Linked DNA regions of Homo sapiens: all the other regions are linked to region 2. Evidence: fine-mapped expression QTL. A gene starts in region 2. Each other region holds a variant in brackets. All regions are shown on one strand. Distances are from middle to middle.

The links. PIP is the estimated chance that this variant, and not a neighbour inherited with it, causes the effect.
Region 1: its variant is the best candidate, but not a certain one, in a credible set for the expression of DNAH11 in esophagus muscle (GTEx, PIP 0.84).
Region 3: its variant is the best candidate, but not a certain one, in a credible set for the expression of DNAH11 in liver (GTEx, PIP 0.88).
Region 4: its variant is the best candidate, but not a certain one, in a credible set for the expression of DNAH11 in aorta (GTEx, PIP 0.54).

What each region holds. Positions count from the first base shown.
Region 1 is chr7:21,590,545-21,595,544 of GRCh38, reverse strand. DNAH11 (dynein axonemal heavy chain 11) reads right to left here. Exons shown (of 82, transcript NM_001277115.2): 13 at 4,523-4,627; 14 at 3,968-4,360. Among named protein-coding and RNA genes, the nearest start is that of DNAH11, 50 kb to the right of the region's middle. The variant TC/C (reference allele first, on the strand shown) is at 1,974.
Region 2 is chr7:21,540,513-21,545,746 of GRCh38, reverse strand. DNAH11 (dynein axonemal heavy chain 11) reads right to left here and starts at 2,708. Exons shown (of 82, transcript NM_001277115.2): 1 at 2,151-2,708; 2 at 598-741. The coding sequence starts at 2,501. RefSeq lists enhancers at 1-552, 2,885-3,386 and a silencer at 2,787-2,836.
Region 3 is chr7:21,571,947-21,576,946 of GRCh38, reverse strand. DNAH11 (dynein axonemal heavy chain 11) reads right to left here. Exons shown (of 82, transcript NM_001277115.2): 8 at 4,974-5,000. LOC105375183 (a long non-coding RNA gene) reads left to right here and starts at 805. Exons shown (of 4, transcript XR_007060247.1): 1 at 805-865; 2 at 1,565-1,674; 3 at 3,511-3,621. The variant C/T (reference allele first, on the strand shown) is at 2,723.
Region 4 is chr7:21,617,333-21,622,332 of GRCh38, reverse strand. DNAH11 (dynein axonemal heavy chain 11) reads right to left here. Exons shown (of 82, transcript NM_001277115.2): 23 at 4,556-4,714; 24 at 3,111-3,233; 25 at 2,255-2,377. Among named protein-coding and RNA genes, the nearest start is that of DNAH11, 77 kb to the right of the region's middle. The variant A/G (reference allele first, on the strand shown) is at 2,306.

The DNA of each region.
Region 1 (5,000 bases), 50 kb before region 2:
AATGTGTAGAATAATCTTTAACGTGTCTTTCTTTCGTGCTCCACATCCAGTCTTTGGGAAACTCTGTTTGCTCCACTTAATTCAAAATATATCCAGAATCCAACTACTTCTAATCACTTTCACTGCTACCACCCTGGTCCAGCACCATCATCTGTTACGTGCCTGTGCCACTGTCTGAATGCTTATGTCCTCCCAAAATTTGAATGTGAAAATCCCAACCCCCAAGGGGATGGTATTATGAGGAGGGGTTTAGGAGGAGGTGATTAGGTCCTGAGGGCAGAGCCTTCATGAATGAAAGTACTGCCTATATGAAACAGGCCCAGGGGAACTTCCTCCATGTGAGGACACAATGAGAAGTTGGCAGTCTGCAACCTAGAAGAGGGGCCTTGCCAGAAACTGATCATGCTGGCACCTGGTCCTCCAGAACTATGAGATAACCATTTCTGCTGTTTTAAAGCTACTCAGTTTAGAGTATTTTGCTATATCAGCCTGAACATACGGAACCCCTAGATTACTAGTAAGAATGGCAACCTACCAGGTCGGCCTGCCTCTTCCCTAGCCTCCCTACAGAGGGTCTCAACACAACAGCCAGAAATCCTTTTAGAATGAAAGTCAGATTGTATTTACTCCCCTTCTCAAAATCTCAAAATTCTGCAGTGTCTTTCACATACCTCAGAGTGAGCCAAAGCCAGAATCTGCAAAAAGGCCTATGAAGCCTCCCCTGAGCTGCCAGTCCCTCACCACGCAGCTTAGCGTCTGACCTCACCTCAGCAACTCTCCACTCAGCTCCCTCTACTCCCCCCACACTTACTTCCCTGCTCCTCCTCGAGCATGCCCAGGGATCTCCTGCCCCAAAACTATCTCCTCTGCCTGGAACACTCTTCACCAAAGGCCCACTTGGCTGACTCTATCACCTCTGTCAAGTCTTTGTTCAAATTTCACCTTCTGGTTGAGGCCTACTCTGATCATCCTACTTAAAACTGCATCCTCGACCCCACCCTCCAGAATTCCCTTGCCCTGCTCCAATTTGATCTTTTTCCTGCAGCGCGTACCAGTTCTAACACAGCACGACTTACTATGTCACTGCTTATTGTCTCTCTCCTCACTTGATTCAAGTTCCATGAGAGCAAGGAACTTTGTCTGCTCTGCTCTCATATTTCAAAAACCTAGAAAGGTGCTGGGTACACACAATGCTCACAATAAATATTTCTCAAATAAGTGAATGATGATGGACTGCAAAGACAAGATACATAATGGGTTGCATACAATTCCCAGCAGGAAAACCGTAATCTATTTCTTGTTCTGCTGAGAATTATCCTAGAGACAAGGACCTTCATTTTACACATGAGAAAATTCAGGCCCAGCCTCTGGAAGACTCTGGTTTCCAGCCTTTACCAAGGACACTTTCCCTACCCCACACTGTGCTACTTCATGATGGCTTCAGAGTGTGTGTGTGTGTGTGTGTGTGTGTGTGTGTGTGTATGTGTGTATGAAAGAGTGTGCATGAGGGAGAAAGAGTGTGTGTGAGTGTGTGTGTGATATGTGAGAGGAAGAGACTGTGTGTGAGAGTATGTGACATACAGAGAAAAAGAGTATGTGTGTGTGAAAGAGAGTGTGTGTGTGTTAGAGAGAGAGAGATTTTGTGTCTGGGGGGAGCAGGGGCAGGGGAGGGGGTCTGTCTGCCTTGCCCAAAGGAGAGTATTCATGGATTAAGGACTGTGCTGGTCTATAGAGAAGACTCCACATAACAAGGATGCTCAGAGGAAACATGAAATACGCTCTTTCATTCCTATCCCTTTTTTCCTTAAGAAATAGTAACAACAAGAAATCAACTCCCCATGTTCCCATCATCAGCATTGCACATCTGTGAGCACCACATTCCTATCTTTGCCTTCCCTCCATCCTGTACTACAGATGAATGCTCCGCGCTCCTGTCTAAAGACACCTTCTACAGGTATTTACTAAATCCCATT[TC/C]CCTCAATGGCTTTCTTCCAACAATTTTTTCTCCTTCCTAGATTACTGCAGTTAACATACAAACATCCTGAAACATCAACCACTATTAAAAATAAAACCCTCCCCACCCTGATACACAGGCCCCAGGTACTGCCCAGTTGTTGGTTTGCCACACAGCAGAGCTCCTCAGGATCTCCTCAGCTGCCTCCACTCATATTTCCCCATTCTCTCATCAGCCCACTCCCACCAAGCTTCCACTCTGCCACCACATGAAATCACCTCTCCTCATCCCAATGACTTCCGTGCTGCCAGATCTGAGGGTTAGCCTCCGTCTTTATTTTCAGGTCCTACGTCAGGATGGGACAGAGTTGAGCTCTTCCTCCTCCTTGAAATCCCTTCTATTATTGGTTTCCAGGGCATCACTCTCTCTTTTTCAGTATCCTCTGTGGGATTTTCCTCTTCTCCCTGACCTAGGGAGGACTTCGAGGCTAGTTTTTGGGCCTCTTTTCTATCTACAATTCCCACATGTTCTTAATCTAATTATATGGCTCTAAATACCATACATATGTGCATAAATCTCAATTCTCTGTTACTTACCTGGATTTTGCCCTGAACACAAGACACATTTGCAATTCTAGTCTACTCAAAATGTCCCTTAGGACAAGCATCTCTAACTAACTTGTCCAAAACCAAACCTCCTTTTTTTTTCTGCTACAAAATCTGCTCACCACAGTCTTCCTCATATCATTAAAGGGCAACCCCAGTCCAGTCCAATCACTCAGACCAAAAACCTTGAAATCATCCTTGACTTCTCTCTCCTCTGATTCCTCAAAGCAAATTCTGCTGGCTCTGCCATCAAAATATCTGCAGGATATGAACTGCCTTGATCACTAGCACTATGACCCAAGGCAGCATCATTTCTCACCTGGATTATTAGCATAGGCTCTGAAGAGTCTCCCTGCCAACCACTTCTTTGCTTGCCTGTGGCTTACCCTCCACAGGGAAAGCCTTTGAGCAGAAAGTCTCTGGCTGCTCTTTCCCCTTACGGTAAAATCCAAAGTCCTCATAACAGCCTGCTAACCCCACATAATGTACCATTAGTCTCTTCTACCTCACCCTCTACTACCACTCCCCTTGCAAATTCTGATCTCAGTTTGCTGACTGATCCTGGAACAGGCCAGGCTGCTCCTGCCTCAAAGTGTCTATACTTTTGCTCTCCAGAATGTTCTTCTCCTGATATCCATATGCTTTGTTCCCTGTCAGTTCTCTGCAGAAATACTATCTTAGGAAAGAGGCCTGCCCAACCACCCTACCCGCAAGCGACTCCCTATCCCACCTGCTCTGCTCTATTTTTCATCATTGCTCCTATTACAACTGACATATCTATTTGTTCTTTTCTCTTGCTAACTTCCTCTGACTAGAGTGTAAGCTCCATGAAATAAAGGATTTGGTGGTGGTTGGCAGGGGAGCATTGTGTTGTTTGCTTTTATTTTCCTGCCTTCTGCCTTTTGTGTGTGTGTGTGTGTTTTTTTTCTGTTTTCTCTTGCATTCACAAGCCTAGATGAGTGCCTGTTACTGTTTTAGGAACTCAAATCTTTGTTAAAAGGAGAGTAATTATTGTTGCCACCCTTAGGAGATGGTTGAGAGGGTACCTTGAGATGACCTAAGGAAGTTGTTTGTTTGGCACATACGAGGCAGTCAACAAACAGTGGTAGCTATAAGGAGCATCCAAAAGAGGATGCAACTGTGACAAGATAAAGATTCTATCACTAGCCTTTCTGTTTAATCAACACATCTCACATTCTAATCTCTTCCCTCAGGAATGACAGTGGTGAGGGCTACAGAAATTGCAGGCAAGTAACACAAATTCCTCCACTTTAAATGCCTAATAATACCATTCATAAAGCTCTTTCAGGCTTGATAAAAGAGTCCCACATTATTAGGTTAAAGATTTTTGCTCTTCTCTGAACTCAATGAAAAGATCTATAAATCTTGAAAGGTTAAAAGCCATTACCTCGACCAAGTTGTGGATCTTGCAGCCATCTCCTTGGATTAACTTGTATTTTTTTGTAAACAAATCACCCTTGTCCTCCAAGGTGAAGGCTGCCTCTCGTCTGTGCTCTCTCCTGGGAGGTAGCACGCACCTGGCCCAGCCCCTCATGGTCTGCTGGATCACCTTCACGTTTTTCTGTGTGCGCTCAACTCTGTGCTCCAACTCGGACGTGGCTGCCCTCACCCTCTCGATGTAGCCCCAGCAGTCATCCTGCCATGTCAGCCACGTTGTGGCTGCTGTCAGCTGCTCGTCAATAGCCCTCAGCTCATCTTCAATCAGAGGGTATTCAACTTCCAGGAGCGTCTGTTTGAGTTTATTATACCCTTGCACAAGAAGGTCAAGATTTCCAATGTACTGAGCAAAGAAAACCCCAAAACAAAAAGTGCCAAATATGTTAGCTATTTTCTCTGTCTTAAAGGTGTAAAAATATCATATAGATCTATATAATAATTAAAATTCAAAATATTTATATTCATAATAGGCCCTAGTATCTTTTTTTTAACAAAAATCACAAACCTTTAAAATAGTGTTCCTTTTCTTGAAGATGGCTAAAGCTGAATCTGGTATGTCTTGTTTCTTCAACATCAAAAGATATTTCACTTCTCTCAATACAGCCACTAGCTATTAAAATACAATTATTAAAATTATTGCATATTTTCATAATGTCATTCTATTTTAACTCAAGTTTAACTTGAAATACTTAAGATGTTATCCAAGTATTACTATATTTCCAAATCAAGGTAAATAGACTTTTGTTTCATATACTTTTTAAAAACAAAAATCATACATTCATAATATAGTAAAGGTATATGAATTATCCTTAAACATCTCAAGAAATTAGTTTCTATAAATTGGTTTTATGAAATCAGAAAGTAGAACGAATCCTCAGTTAACTATGTCATATATTTAGGTATGTGTGCTGAGTTTTACTAGCAAAATAAAGTCAACTATTCTCTGTACATATTTTAGGGAAACAGATCAGAATTTGGGTGCA
Region 2 (5,234 bases):
TTTCACAAAATCCCCAGGCAGTTCTTATGCACATTAAAGTGTCAGTAACATTGGTTGAAGACTATTTCTCTATTTTAAGAGGAGAAAAAGAAAGTTTAAGAACCATTTCTAACACTTTCATCACCTTTTCCCATTATCTGCCATGAGTGAATCTTAGTCTTTAACTGTTAGTTTCTAACAAGTATAAAAAGGAACTGATAATACTCATTTTCAAAGTGTAAATTTGTCTCTACTCTGAATGTGAAGCTTAAAACCTGCTGCTAAGGTGCAAGAACCTATTCAAGTTGCTTTTTATTTGCTTCTATTGTGTTGGAAGGAAGAAAGGGAGAGAATGATCCCTGCAATTGCCACCTGTTGAATATTAGCATCAGTAAGCATGAGCTCCTTTCAGGAACAGTCTAGATGTTATGACTCCATCCACCTGGCTAGAGACTCCTGGCTTCTACAAGCTTTTTTTTTTTTTTTTTTTTTTAACCACCCCCATCCCCTTCCCTTCCCCTCCTAGCTCTTCTTTTTTTAATTATCGGAGTTGTCCTAAATAATTTCAAATGTCATGGAGATAAGTGAAAGCTTTAAATATTAAAGACAGACCAGTACCTCATCAAGGAAAGCAGATACATGTCCAAGAGACAACGCAGGTAACTCTCCAAATAAAACCACTTGAGAAAAGTCATTTACTCCAATGCTTTCAGTAATCTTCTTGGAAATAAAAACAAGTTTATGGTTTGCATCTCTTGGAATCTAAAACAAGAGCAAGATAATTAGTTCAAGTAGTTTTCTTGTTAACAAGCAGGATTTACTATATCCAACTTGTAGCTGTATTGCTAGCAGAAGAAACAAAACCTGGCATCTTGCCTGCCCTATAAACAAGGTCCTTCTACGGCTCTTCCCTAGTATGCAGCGAGTATACAGTTTTCTTTGTTCTTTTATAATGCTAATTTCACAGCATTACTGGTGTGGAAATATCACCTTTTAAAGGCATGCCAATTATACCAGTTCATTATACACCAAAAAAAAAATCTTATAACTAAAAACAAATAAGGAGCACGTAGGCATGTAGAAATGTTTCAATCCTAAAGGGTTATTTTTTATACTCTTCTCTGGTTTGGAAATAAGCCAAACTGAGATAAAGACAAGCCCAAGAGGTTAATTTGTATTTCTATCAAAGAATAGAACCGTATAACCAAAACATGCTAACATTTCCACAACTACTGAGTCATTCCATTGAACATTATAATAACTATTTAACTTAGGTAATACTAGAGTTGTGTTCTATCGCCTTGTCTACTGACAAACTTATTTTTTTTAAAGTTACAATTAGGAGAGTCCTAAAACAAAAGAATTCAAAATTCACAATACCATAAGGCAGCCTTCCTATTACTCTTTCTTCTCTGAGATCCTATTTCCCAACTATTACAATGACCACACCTAGTGATAAAACGACATAACATGTTAAACTGAGCATTGCGCTACTTAAAAATTGTGAATCTTGCTCCAAACTCATCATACTTGAAAAATACTAAATACAAGTGCTGTACGTTAGGTGATACGTTAACCTTTTAGTGGACAAATCATCGAAATTCAAAAAGAAAAGGAAGAAAAAGAAGAAAGGAGGGAACTGTTCCCTCTAAATGTTCAGTAAACACCCATGTGTGCGGAGATTGCAGGGGCCTTCCTTTTTAAGGACTTAATGTTTTTGCCTGGGGTGAAGTGTTGTTGGCACGTAATCAAAATACGTGACGAGTTACATGCGCTCTGCCAAACACCCCATTTTTTAAAGGATGTGACTCCAGAGTGACCCAAGAGCAACTGAAACGCAAGTTTTTTGGCACAGAAAGCCCACCTGGCGCCTAACACCCAAGCAGCTAAAGAAAGCGCTGGTGTTCTTGGGTTATCCTGGTCGAACAGGCTCAACGCGGGATTCTCGGTCAGATACAAACTGCTGACTTAGGAAACTAACCTGCAGCTGCTGAACTGCAGAGTGGGTGCACGTGGGGAGGAGTCCTGCGGGCCTCAGGATGGGGACTTCAAGCCAAGTTTGTTAAAGTGCCCGAGTGAGCGCCCCGCGGGAATCCAAAGGGGAGCGACTGGGCTGTCTCCCCTGGGTAGTTTTGTTGGATGGGCAGGTCCCCTTGCCCGTCGCCTCTTACCTCCTGGGAAGCCGCAAGGCGCCCCGAGGCGGCGAAGCTAAACACAAGGCAAGCCGGGCTGGTGCTTTCCAGAAACTCCCCAAGAACCTGCCGGTTGTCCTCGCTTTCCAAATACTGGCTCCATTTCTCCTCCGTGAACCCCAGCATCATCGCCAGGCGGCCGCCGAGGAAGCGCACCCGCGCGTCTTGGGCGAAACTCCGCGCTCTCCTGGCCGCCGCCTCCTCCTCGTTCTCCTCCTCCTCCTCGAGCTCCACAGCGCCCACTGCCTCCAGGCCGGCCCCCGAGGTTAGGCGAAGGGTCGGGGCTTCTCTGAAGTCTCGCGCCTCCCGGGCTGCCACCTGGGCTGCCATTGGGCAACCGTCCGAGGGAACGCGAGGCCGGCTGGCTCCTCACCCGAGACTCTGGGCCCCCCGAAGTGAGCGAGGACACCTCCGCAGGCGCCCACCCTCCTCCGCGGTCGCCGCGAGCGCAGACCCTAGTCTCCCACCTGCTGCTACTTAGCAGCCGCGCCACTGCGCACAGCTGTAGCCTCGCAGGCCGAAGCGAAGGCCTGGGACAAGCAGCGCGTCCCGTTTCCCGGGGGACGGTGTCCCCGCCCCAGCCCGCTGGGGGCGGAGTGAGCGCACCGCGCCACCGCCCAGTATACGCCAAGGCCAAGGCCGAGGGGAGAGGCCCTCGGGCTCTAGGTCCCGAACACGGCCGAGAAGCCGCGTGTCCGGGGTGGGTCTGAGCCCCCAGTGCGCTCGCTCCACTGCCCTCCGGCTCCTTCGCCTACTGGACACTTGGTGGAGATCCCAGCATTGGTTAAGTGCTCTGGATGAAGCAATGCTCTCTTGTGCCAAGGTCCGTGCTAATCTCTTACCTTGACTAGTTGACATAATCCGTAGAAAGCCAAGTCTCTGACTGGTCAGTCTTTGTTTTATGGGCAAGGAACTAAGTTACAAAAATAAGTAACAGAGAAGTTTCGGGGCCCAAGTTGAAGGCTGTTATTCACCTTTCCCAAGGTGTCCAAATATTACCAGAAGAGAGCCAGTCCTGCAATTCAACTTTCCTAGTTGTGGGAATCCAAGATCTAAGTATTCGAAGTCCTCCTGATTGCCATCCTCAACCTGAAACTTACTGGAACTTCAGTACACCCAGTAAGAGAACGCACAGTGCCCTTTCGTGATCTCCAAAATGTTCCGAAAATCTATAGATTTATCATTTAATTCAAGAGTAAAAAGGTCAAAGAGAAAAAGCTTCAGATTAAAAACAGTTTCATGATACTGAAATAGGATTTCACTGCGGTCCATTAGTGGCTTTCGTTGAGACTCTTATGGAAATTCTAATTATTAAAGCAACCAGAATTTTGAGGAGGAGTCCTCAACTAAACTTTTAAGTCTCCTTTGTTAATTGTTTATTTCAAACTAAAGTCTTCAATCCCCACCCCTTCCATGGGGGCTACTGAAGGACTGTTGCCCACAATAATCCATTTAATACCTGAATGTTGACAGACATTTCCAGAAGATGAGGCTTCAACAATTTTTTTCTTTGCAGGATATTAACTGCCCCTGAAAACCATCGACAAGTTTCCAGTTATGTGATCAGAATCTTGAAATAACACAGGGCCTTGGAAAACTTTGATAATGACTTCTAACCTGTCAAGGCTGCTTTATATTGTCCATAATAATCTTTGGGGCTCCCAGTTGCTGGTATACAAGGCTGGCAATCACCAGTTCCTTCTCTCCCCTCTTATATTCCAGCTTCACATCCCTGTAACCTAGAAAACCGGGAATTCTGTAAATAATAGTTGAATTAAATTGAAAGTGAATAACCACTTTCAAATCTAGCAGGAAAATTTTTTAAATGATGCTAACTTTAAAGTGCAATTTCCAAAAAGTTAACTATGTAACTCGAAATATAAGATGAAGATATGTCAAAGATTGATTTAACTCATAAATGAGGAAAGCAACAAAATGATGTAAGTTCCAAGGACAGTTCGAGAAAGAAATTTAGCAGCATTGGAGGAAGACAGGATGAGTCAGCTTGCTAGGTTCAAAACAACACTCACTAATGTCATACAGGGCAAAATAATCCTTTGTTTTTTAAAAAATAATTTGTTTTTCCAAAATAAATTACATCTGTATTGAACAAAAATCTGTAAATAAAAACGTAACTTCAGAGTTTGAGACTTCGATCAGTAGTAGTTAATGAGTCCAAAAAAGATACTTTTCCCTAAATAATTAATAATCCTTTCATTGGCCGGTGAAGCAGTGTTTCAATGTGACAGTGAATGAACATGGCTTTACCTTGTTCCCAAGTTTTATGTATTTTTTCTCAATAATAATAGCTAACATTGATCAAGTACCAATTATGTGCCATGTGCTGTGCTGAGTTCATTCATTTGTCTAACAAATCTTTACTGAATGCCTACTAAGTGCCAAGCACTGTTCTAGGTGCTGGGAAATATAACAGAAAACAAAACAGATTAAGTTTCTACCCTCATATTGGAGATACAGGCTAGATTTCTACTGAATAGAGTGGAGCTATACCAACTGAATTTGCATTCCATTTCTATTTTCTAGGTGCCTGAGTTTCCTCACCAGAAATAGGAAAAAAAAAATGGTAGATGAGACTATTTTTTAGCAAATATCTCTCCCCCAACCCCACCTTCATGAAAAGAGTATGCTTATACCTTTTTGTGCTATTAAAGTTGTGGCTGGCCATGTGACTTGCTTTGGTCCATAGGATATTGGCAGACATAACAAACAGAGGCATCGCTTCTTTTGGCTAAGATCAAGTGTAGTAGCAAACAGATGCTTGGAATGTCTTTGCATGGTGAGGCTTGCCTTCTTGTGCCTCTGCCACTGTCTTGAGAAGAACATCCCTAGTTAGCTTGCTAATGCAGGGAACCAGCCTGGACCCGACTTTTGTAGCTCAGAGGCAAGTCCAGCGAAGGCTAGTCTTGATCAATCTACTCTCAGTCAGCCCACAGATGCATGAAAATAATGAATGATTATTGGTTTTAAGCTACATAGTTGTGGTGAGGTTTGTTATGTAGTGATAGTATGGTAATAGTAAATGATACACCACATCATAGAGTT
Region 3 (5,000 bases), 31 kb before region 2:
TTTTCTCAGATACTGTTATTTTATTTCAGAAATAAGTAGTAACACACATAGACACATTTCTCTTTCTGCCTGCCCAGAAAACCACTACCCCAAAGTAAGTTTCAATCTTTCCCATGTGTGTTTTCACACTTTTGTTATAAACATCATAATATATATACATAAGTGTGCATTGAACACTTTGTTTTTACATTTCCTTGAAATACACTTAAGAATTCTGTCTTTCTTAATTGCTTACAGCACAAAGACCAGGTCTTCACGAGTAAGCTGAAATACAGCATTGACACTGATATTAGGCTAATTTATGCCCACAAAATGCTTTGGCCTAAAATATTCTGAGAAGCAAGGAGAACATCTGTCTTACTTCAAAAGAGCTGTTTATAAGCACAATCTCCCACTTACTTGCTTGATAGGGTCTTGGCTTAAGCCCTAGAAAGGATCAAACATATTATCCATACCCTCTATCAGAGTTTACATCTTTCAAGAGAGTCTTGAGTCAGTATTAAGATCTTCTGGGATCTCAGATCTTGGCTTCCTTTTATCTCCTCTCCCCTACAACCCCAAGAACAGTCCCTTAAACCAACTTGGTGCTTCCTTTCTGGGCTTCCTGCAATAGACATTTTCAAGGGTTGTTTGTGGCCGCCGTGCTTGCTGAGGCCTTTCAGGCAGGCAAGGAAGACACAACCTTGGAATATGTATCAATCCTGTACAAGATGAATCGCTGTCCTTCTTGGGTAATTAACTTCCTGCCAAGCAGCTGTTTGGTCTCCTCAAGGGATAATACCATGGTGGAGCCTCAGAGTCAATCTCCATCGCTGGCAGGTAGGATACTCAGCAGCAACAAGATCTAGAGGAGTCTCGGTGACAGGTGAGCCATGCTACTGTATAACGGCCAGTGTTTTAGTTGCACTTACTGGGAGCAGTAGGGAAAAGTACATCTCCCTCTTTCCAGAAGCAGAAGTTTCTCATTAAAATTTTAAACAATGATATCTACTAAATGACATTTTAAAATAAATAAGATAAACTTTAGTATATAAATCTGATGGAATGCGCAGTTGTTTTAAGATGAGCAATGCTATTGTAGTGACACAGAATGACTGCCAAAATATAGTAAGGGATAAAAGCAAGGTATAAATGCTATTAATGCAAAAGCAGAAAACAAAGGAATAAATATATGTATATGCCAGTGCATGCACCAAATATCTCTGGAACATCATATAAGAAATTTTTAATAGAGATGCCTTTGGGGAGGAAAAATGGAAGACTAGGGAAAAGGCCATAGGGTGAGAAGAAAGGGACTAAGTTTTTACAGATGTTACCTTTCCAAAAGAATTACTAAGGAAGGTTGCTAAATAACTCATTTAATCTTGAATAATAGGCAGGCAAAACATGAAAATGCTGTGTATGACTAATAAAGATGAAATCTGTTTAATTAAAATGAGAAAACACTACATAAATAGCAAAAGAATAGTTCAGTGAGTGACAGCAGAACAATAGACTCGTTCTAGGAATTAGAATACAACCTAGTACAGATGAACTAAATAACTACTTTTAAAATGTATTTTAGATTCTGATATCATGGTGAACAAGGCACCTGAATAAAGCTTCCCACTGAAAATCAGCAGAAAAGCAGACACAGCAACCTGGATCACTCCATCTCAGGCCATAGGTCCTCAGGTGAGTTCCCACAGATGAACTTATTCCTTTCATTTCAATGAGGATGCAACAAGCAAGATAAATACTAACAGGGTGGTGCAGTGAAAAGAATGCAGGGGCTGGGCATGGTGGCTCATGCCTGTAATCCCAGCACTTTTGGAGGCCGAGGCAGGTGGATCACTTGAGGCCAGGAGTTTAAGACCAGCCTGGCCAACATGGTGGAAAACCCCATCTCTATTAAAAATACAAAAGTTAGTTGGGCATGGTGGCACACTCCTGTAATCCCAGCTACTCAGAAGGCTGAGGCAGGAGAATCACTTGAACCTGGGAGGCAGAGGTTGCAGTGAGCTGAGATCATGCCACTGCACTCCAACTTGGGTGACAGAGTGAAACTGTCTCAAAAAAAAAAAAAAAAAAAAAAAAAAAGCCCAGTGCAGTGGCTCACGCCTGTAATCTCCTCAGCACTTTGGGAGGCCAAGGAGGGTGGATCATCTGAGGTCGGGAGTTTGAGACCAACCCGGCCAACATGGCGAAACCCCATCTCTACTAAAAGTACAAAAAAATTACCTGGGCGTGGTGGTGTGCCCCTGTAATCCCAGCTACTCAGGAGGCTGAGGCAGAAGAATCACTTGAAGCCAGGAGGCAGAGGTTGCAGTGAGCTAAGATCGCACCATTGCACTCCAGCCTGGGCGACAGAGTGAGACTCTGTCTTAAAAAAAAAAAAAAAAAGGAAGGAAGGGAGGGAGGGAGGGAGGGAAAACAAAAGTATGCAGGGCTTGTGGTTGAGAGTTCTGGATTCAAACTTCCATTCCACCAACTGGAAACTATAATCTCAGGTAATTTAGTGAAACTGTCATTTGCCTGCGGGACCACTCTCTGGGTTATAGTGAAAATTAAGCAGGTATATAATGTGGGAAATCTCTGGCACAACGCCTGGCATCCAGTACTTCGTCCATAAATATTAACTGGCTCTCATTAACAGAGACTAAGTGGAGCCAAGGGGTTACCCTCAACAAGAATAGCTACCATCTTTGCTTAGGTATCTGAGGGATTTCATCAAGAAACACCA[C/T]AGAAAGACAGCAAAATTACTGAGTCTAATATTGCTGGACTAACTGTTCAACATTAATAATGAAGAAAGCAAGTCTCTTCCCATAACTGTCTAGATTTCAAACAGTCCCCTAAGAAGATGTCAAAGAAAACACCTAAAGTAACATTCAATAATTGAGAAACCCAAAACCATTTTTATGGGCACACCTGATAAAATCCCCACATTCTGTAAATGGACCACGGCAGCAAACCTTTCGGTACGCCAATAAAGGCTCAAAGCCTGATTAGTAGGCATGAGATTGATGAGAAGAGAAATAAACAACAGCATTTCAAAAAGCAAATTACCAGTGATCATTTCTTTAATTTACTGGAACATATTTAAACCATGTATATACCAAAGGGCAGAATGGCTGACCCTGACACACTTCCCTGTTATATAAGCACTAGTTTGTAGTCAGAGGGGATGGGGCAGGAGCAGGAACATGGGGGTGAATGCAATGGGAGGGGAAGGGCAGAGGTTGGGCATGTATTCATATGTACATGCAAATATATGCATACACTAGGTTGGAAGTCATTTGTTAAAATAATGTCTCAAAAACTACCAACTGATTTCATCATGAAGTCAAAGTACAAGGAACTCAGCTAAAAAGCACCAAAATGAACAGCTTATTAAGCAAAAATATATGATAAATGCAATATTTTAAAGTAATAATGATAGGCAAAACACATTTTTTTAAAAAAGTAATGGTCATTTTCAACATAAGTATGCTGATTAAGTTAACTTTTAGTTAATTCATGTTTTAATTTTAGGGAATGACCAAAGTCAAGGAGCTTCTAGATTCTAAGGCAAGAATCAGACAGGAGGATGAAGGGAACTTCAGGGGAAGGTTATGATGTCTCCAACCAGACCGAAGATCAGAGGTAAACCCTGCCCACCTTATCTGCAAAATAGAATAGGCTTCCAAAATACAAATACCAAGCAGATATATACCTCAAGAGTAAATGAATTTTCTATTCCTACATGTTTGTGACTATGCAGGCTTTAGGCAGAGACAGGAGTAAAATCAGGACCTTTGGCATGGCCAAGGTAGTGACGTCAATTAAACCTGGCCACATTCTCTAATTCTGGCACTCTGAAAACTTGCCAGTTTTTGTAATTATAACAAAATCAAGACTCTCTTGCAATCCAAATGTCCCCAAGGATCTTGTGCAGGCTCAGTCTCACACTCCTCCTCCACTAGCTCGTTCAGCGGCGCTAACCTAGAGGCTCTCTTAAGAATCCCATTCTGTACGTATTTATTGAATGCCTTCCAAGTGCCAGGCATCTTACAAGGCTTTGGGGATGAGCTCACTCAAATTATTCATCACCATGATCCTAGGTTCCTCATACTTTTTCACAAAGTGTAGTGCCCTGGTTTAGCAAAAAGTCACCTATTACAGCAGTGTCCTTCTACCATTAACTCCACTTTCCAAAACTGACTATAATTCAGAGGGCTTAAGTTTGCTAACTACATCCTTATAAAGCTAACATACTGCACTCGTACACTTCAAAGAATCAATTGTTTGGCCAAATATAAACAATAGTGAATAAACTCACATTACATATACAATAATAAGAACAAGAGCTAAATCTTCATTCTTTTGGACTTGGGCTTCGCTGTTCTTGGCAAACTACTAAAATGAAGCTATTTTTATCCTAGAACTGCAGGGATGCTCACAGGTAGCTCCCTGGCTACTAACATGCTGGAACTGACAGAGCACAGAAGCAGCTTAAATCAGAAAGGTTCCCCCTTTCCTGTGGTTGGAAATATGAAATTATAATCAGCTCTCAAGAATAACAAAAATTATAAGAAACAACCAACATGTAAATGATACACTTAATGACTGGGGTGAAAGCAAGTGTTCAGGTGAATCAAAAAACAAAACATCCAGTGATTCAAGAAAATGCTAAAATAAAGCACGAGTTACATGGACATCAGATCAAAATGAATTCATGTGGAAAGTTTCTGTTTAGCATACACAAACAAGATACAAATCCAGACTGAGGTCTGCAGTTTTATCAGCCGTCATTCTGAACTGAAAATGCAAAAGCTTAAGTTCTGATCCCTGATCTACTAACTAAGTAGCTACAAGACTTCAGGCAAGTCATGTAACCTCTTTTGGTCCTAGAGATATTGGAATGGATGGTCCCTATTATCACTGTGACCTATCTTCCTTTTCAGCTATAAAATTATAGGATCCCATGCAATGAAAATGCAAAGGTACAACATTACCATGTTAGTGCAATCAGATGGGTCATA
Region 4 (5,000 bases), 77 kb before region 2:
TTTCTTTGTATCCTCTTTTATTTCATTGAGCAGTGGTTTGTAGTTCTCCTTGAAGAGGTCCTTCACATCCCTTGTAAGTTGGATTCCTAGGTATTTTATTCTCTTTGAAGCAATTGTGAATGGGAGTTCACTCAGGATTTGGCTCTCTGTTTGTCTGTTATTGGTGTATAAGAATGCTTGTGATTTTTGTACGTTGATTTTGTATCCTGAGACTTTGCTGAAGTTGCTTATCAGCTTAAGGAGATTTTGGGCTGAGACAATGGGGTTTTCTAGATATACAATCATGTCATCTGCAAACAGGGACAATTTGACTTCCTCTTTTCCTAATTGAATACCCTTTATTTCCTTCTCCTGCCAAAATGCCCTGGTCAGAACTTCCAACACTATGTTGAATAGGAGTGGTGAGAGAGGGCATCCCTGTCTCGTGCCAGTTTTCAAAGGGAATGCTTCCAGTTTTCGCCCATTCAGTATGATATTGGCTGTGGGTTTGTCATAGATAGCTCTTATTATTTTGAGATACGTCCCATCAATACCTAATTTATTGAGTTTTAGCATGAAGGTTGTTGAATTTTGTCAAAGGCCTTTTCTGCATCTATTGAGATAATCATGTGGTTTTTGTCTTTGGTTCTGTTTATATGCTGGATTACATTTATTGATTTGTGTGTATTGAACCAGCCTTGCATCCCAGGGATGAAGCCCACTTGATCCTGGTGGATAAGCTTTTTGATGTGCTGCTGGATTCAGTTTGCCAGTATTTTACTGAGGATTTTTGCATCAATGTTCATCAAGGATATTGGTCTAAAATTCTCTTTTTTGGTTGTGTCTCTGCCCGGCTTTGGTATCAGGATGATGCTGGCCTCATAAAATGAGTTAGGGAGGATTTCCTCTTTTTCTATTGATTGGAATAGTTTCAGAAGGAATGGTACCAGTTCCTCCTTGTACCTCTGGTAGAATTCGGCTGTGAATCCATCTGGTCCTGGACTCTTTTTGGTTGGTAAGCTATTGATTATTGCCACAATTTCGGAGCCTGTTATTGGTCTATTCAGAGAGTCAACTTCTTCCTGGTTTAGTCTTGGGAGGGTGTATGTGTCGAGGAATTTATCCATTTCTTCTAGATTTTCTAGTTTATTTGCATAGAGGTGTTTGTAGTATTCTCTGATGGTAGTTTGTATTCAACTCTTGTGGAAGTCAGTGTGGCGATTCCTCAGGGATCTAGAACTAGAAATACCATTTGACCCAGCCATCCCATTACTGGGTATACACCCAAAGGATTATAAATCATGCTGCTATAAAGACACATGCACACGTATGTTTATTGTGGCACTATTCACAACAGCAAAGACTTGGAACCAACCCAAATGTCCAACGAGGATAGACTGGATTAAGCAAATGTGGCACAGATACACCATGGAATACTATGCAGCCATAAAAAATGATGAGTTCATGTCCTTTGTAGGGACATGGATGAAATTGGAAATCATCATTCTCAGTAAACTATCACAAGAACAAAAAACCAAACACCGCATATTCTCACTCATAGGTGGGAATTGAACAATGAGAACACATGGACACAGGAAGGGGAACATCACACTCTGGGGACTGTTGTGGGGTGGGGGGAGGGGGGAGGGATAGCTTTAGGAGATATACCTAATGCTAAATGACGAGTTAATGGGTGCAGCACACCAGCATGGCACATGTATACATATGTAACTAACCTGCACATTGTGCGCGTGTACCCTAAAACTTAAAGTATAATAGTAAAATTTAAAAAAAAGAATAAAATCCTGGTTTGCAACAACATGGATGACCCTAAAGGACAGTGCTAAGCAAAATAAGCCAGGAACAAAAAGACAAATATTGTACGATGCCATCTACACGTGGAATCTAAAAAAGTTGAACTCATAGAAACAGAGAGTAGAATGATGGTTACCAGAGCCGGGGGGAGGGGGCAAGAGGAGCTGTTGATCAAAGGGTACAAATTTTCAGTTAGACAGGAGGAATAAGCTTTAGTGATCTATTGCACAGTTGGTGACTACAATAAATAATAATGCATTGTATGTTTCAAAATTCCTAAAGGAGATTTTAAGTGATTCACCACAAAAAAAATGTTAAGTGTATGAGATGACGGTTAGCCTGATTTAATCTTTCCACATTGTAAACATACATCAAAACATCACATGGTACCCTATATATACAATTATTTGTCAAATAAAAATAAAATGAAAAATATATGCAATAAAAATATCCATCTTACTTGGTTGTGCTCTAGAGTTTCAAAAAGTTGTTCATCAGACTTTAGTAATGG[A/G]ATGCCTGTTCGATAGTGAACTTCGTAAGAAAACTTCATGGTTGCCCAGGTCTGACTGATTTCAGTAATAACCTAGTAATCAACAATATAATTAATGTGCACAAAATTTAATTGATAATCAATATGTAGACTATTATCTGGAATTAATTTTTTTCAACTTTCAAAAATGCAAACTGATATCAAGTATTATTGGCTTGAGTTTTTTCCTCCAAGTAATTCATGCTAATGGGGTTTGAAGAATGAATTTTATCACATCAAAGGTATGAGCATCACACTAACATCAAACTTCTACTGAATGTGAGTTTATCATCCCTAACCAAAACACAATTCAAGAGCAGGAAGGGACTTAAATGTTTGGTAGATACTATTTACAAATTAGCCAGCATGAAACAGGTAATGCCTCAAATGTGAATGAATCTCAGTCTTCTGTGTGAATCTGGGTAAGTTAATTATCTCTTTATACCTCAGTTTCCCCATGTGTAAAATAGAGATACTATTACTTACCTCAGAAGATTAAATGGGTTAATATAAATAAAGCACTCAGAGTGGTGTTGGCTACAAAATAAAGGATATGTAAGTATTTTCTGCTATAATCATCATCATCAACAAGACCAATCCTCCTGTTTTACTGTGGCTTAGAATGATTCTAGTTCCTGCTCATCCCACACCTAATGAACAGCAGGGAACAAACTGGGACTCATCTCTCCAGGCTCCCAGGACATCAAAAGGACTTTTCTCTAAGTTGGCTTCTATGCAAATACCCAAAATTAGCCAAGTAGAAATGACCCAGTCCCGAGGACACTACCTTCTCAGTCCCCAGCTCTTTCACCGCCTTGTCCACAATCCTTCGGACATCATCTTCCACTCTGTGTAACCGCAGTGCTAACAAATCTGCCAAAGTTGTGGCTTCATTTATTAAAAACTTGACCTGATTGGGGGAAAAAAAGTTAGACTTTATATTCCACATATATGAACGGTTCCTTTTGCCTAAAGGCTGGTGAAATGAATCTTAACTAAAATATACTCAAGTCAGGTGCTGAGTACATCTCTCGTCTTGAAATACGTGGAGAATCTAAGACACTCCTTTTTAACTCACAATTCCTGAGGCGTCACCTGCCGGAAGCAAGGGCCACAGTTTAGTCACATCCGTGCTACACTATTTTCTTTGTTTCACATCTTTCCCTTGTCGGCACGTTTCTTATCTCCTTTGCCCACAAAACCCATTTTTAAAGAGAATCTCATTGTTCATTTATTATAATTTGGTTGAAATCCCAGGAATCAGGTAGTGGCTCATTTGTCTTTTCTTCCTAAAGAACCCTATTCACTGAACATAATTCCCAGCTGCTTCTGTGATTTAACCTAGTTTTATCACTAATTTAATCTCAGTTCATTGGCAAAAAAAATAGTCTTACAGTGTCATTATTCATATTTACCATGTGAAAAATAATTCTCATTTCCACATTGTCTTGTGACAATGACTCCCCTTCTCTCACATTGACTCTCCTTCCCTCCCCTATATTGGGTCCTTGAGACATCCTCAGCTCTTCGACATACCCAAACTCACTCATGTCTCCTGTAAGTGAAGAGTTGAGCCAGCCATATGGGTTGCAGGAAAGCCATTTTCTTTCCGGCTTTTGCTAAGAATATCCAGAATCTGCTTCTTGGAAGCTGCCACCCTCTGCCCCTCCCTACCCTCTAACATTCCTTAGCACCATCCACGCCTCTGCATAAGAGGACCAAATGCCCTGATTTGCTCCGGACTGAGGGGTTTCTAGCAAGTGGATTTCAGGGATGTGATACTTTCAGTGCTAAAATCTGGAAAGTCCTGAGAAAGCTAGATGAGTTTGCCAGACTATCTCTGTGTCAACTTTGGCCTCACTCCAGAGTTGCTGGGAGCCAGGGAGCTAGGTCTGTCCTTGAGAAAGAATGAGGAGAGATGAGTAATAGGGCCACCCTGATTAGTTGTGCAATCTGTGTACTGAACGTGGACACCAGCCCAGATGACAAATGGAGATGGAAGCCAGCCTCCGCTCTGCTGTCCTGGGGACAGCCTGGAGGAGGGTGCCTTTTTCTAAATTGTTGGTCGGATCAGGCGACTTTTTCTAGACAGCAAAAAGGCATAACACAGCAAGTAGAGGCTATGCTGAGGGGGGTCTTTTCATAAATTACACTTCATCTCAGATGATGCAAACCAAGAAGTAACACTTCACAGTCATAAAAAGGTTCATTAGTGAGACCAAGGATACTGACCCCAATAGCTTTCATCAGCTGGTGCCAATGCCTGTCCCTGAGGGCAGGGCTCTGTAACTCTGTGATGGCCCTCAGGGAGGCTGTCATGTCCTTAACTGTGCCTTCCAGGCCCGTGTAAGCATCCCAGACGCGGACTTCCTTGTTGAGTGACCAAATTTCCTAAAGAAAAGTGGAGGAAAAAACCTAGCTCCCAAGATATAACACAGTATATATTAATAATTTGCCTCCTTTGACATATATTTCCCAACTCCTGGATTAGAAAAGAGTGAAAGCATTTGAACTCCTAGACCAAGGAGCAAAACCAGAGAAACGAAAAGGGATCCACTCATTTGTACATTACAAGCCCACTCCGTACAAGCCACTTGTATACACTGCTTTCTCATTCACAAGATCTAACTGAATGTCCCATGAGGAAACACAGGTAAGTAACAGAGTTCACAGGACA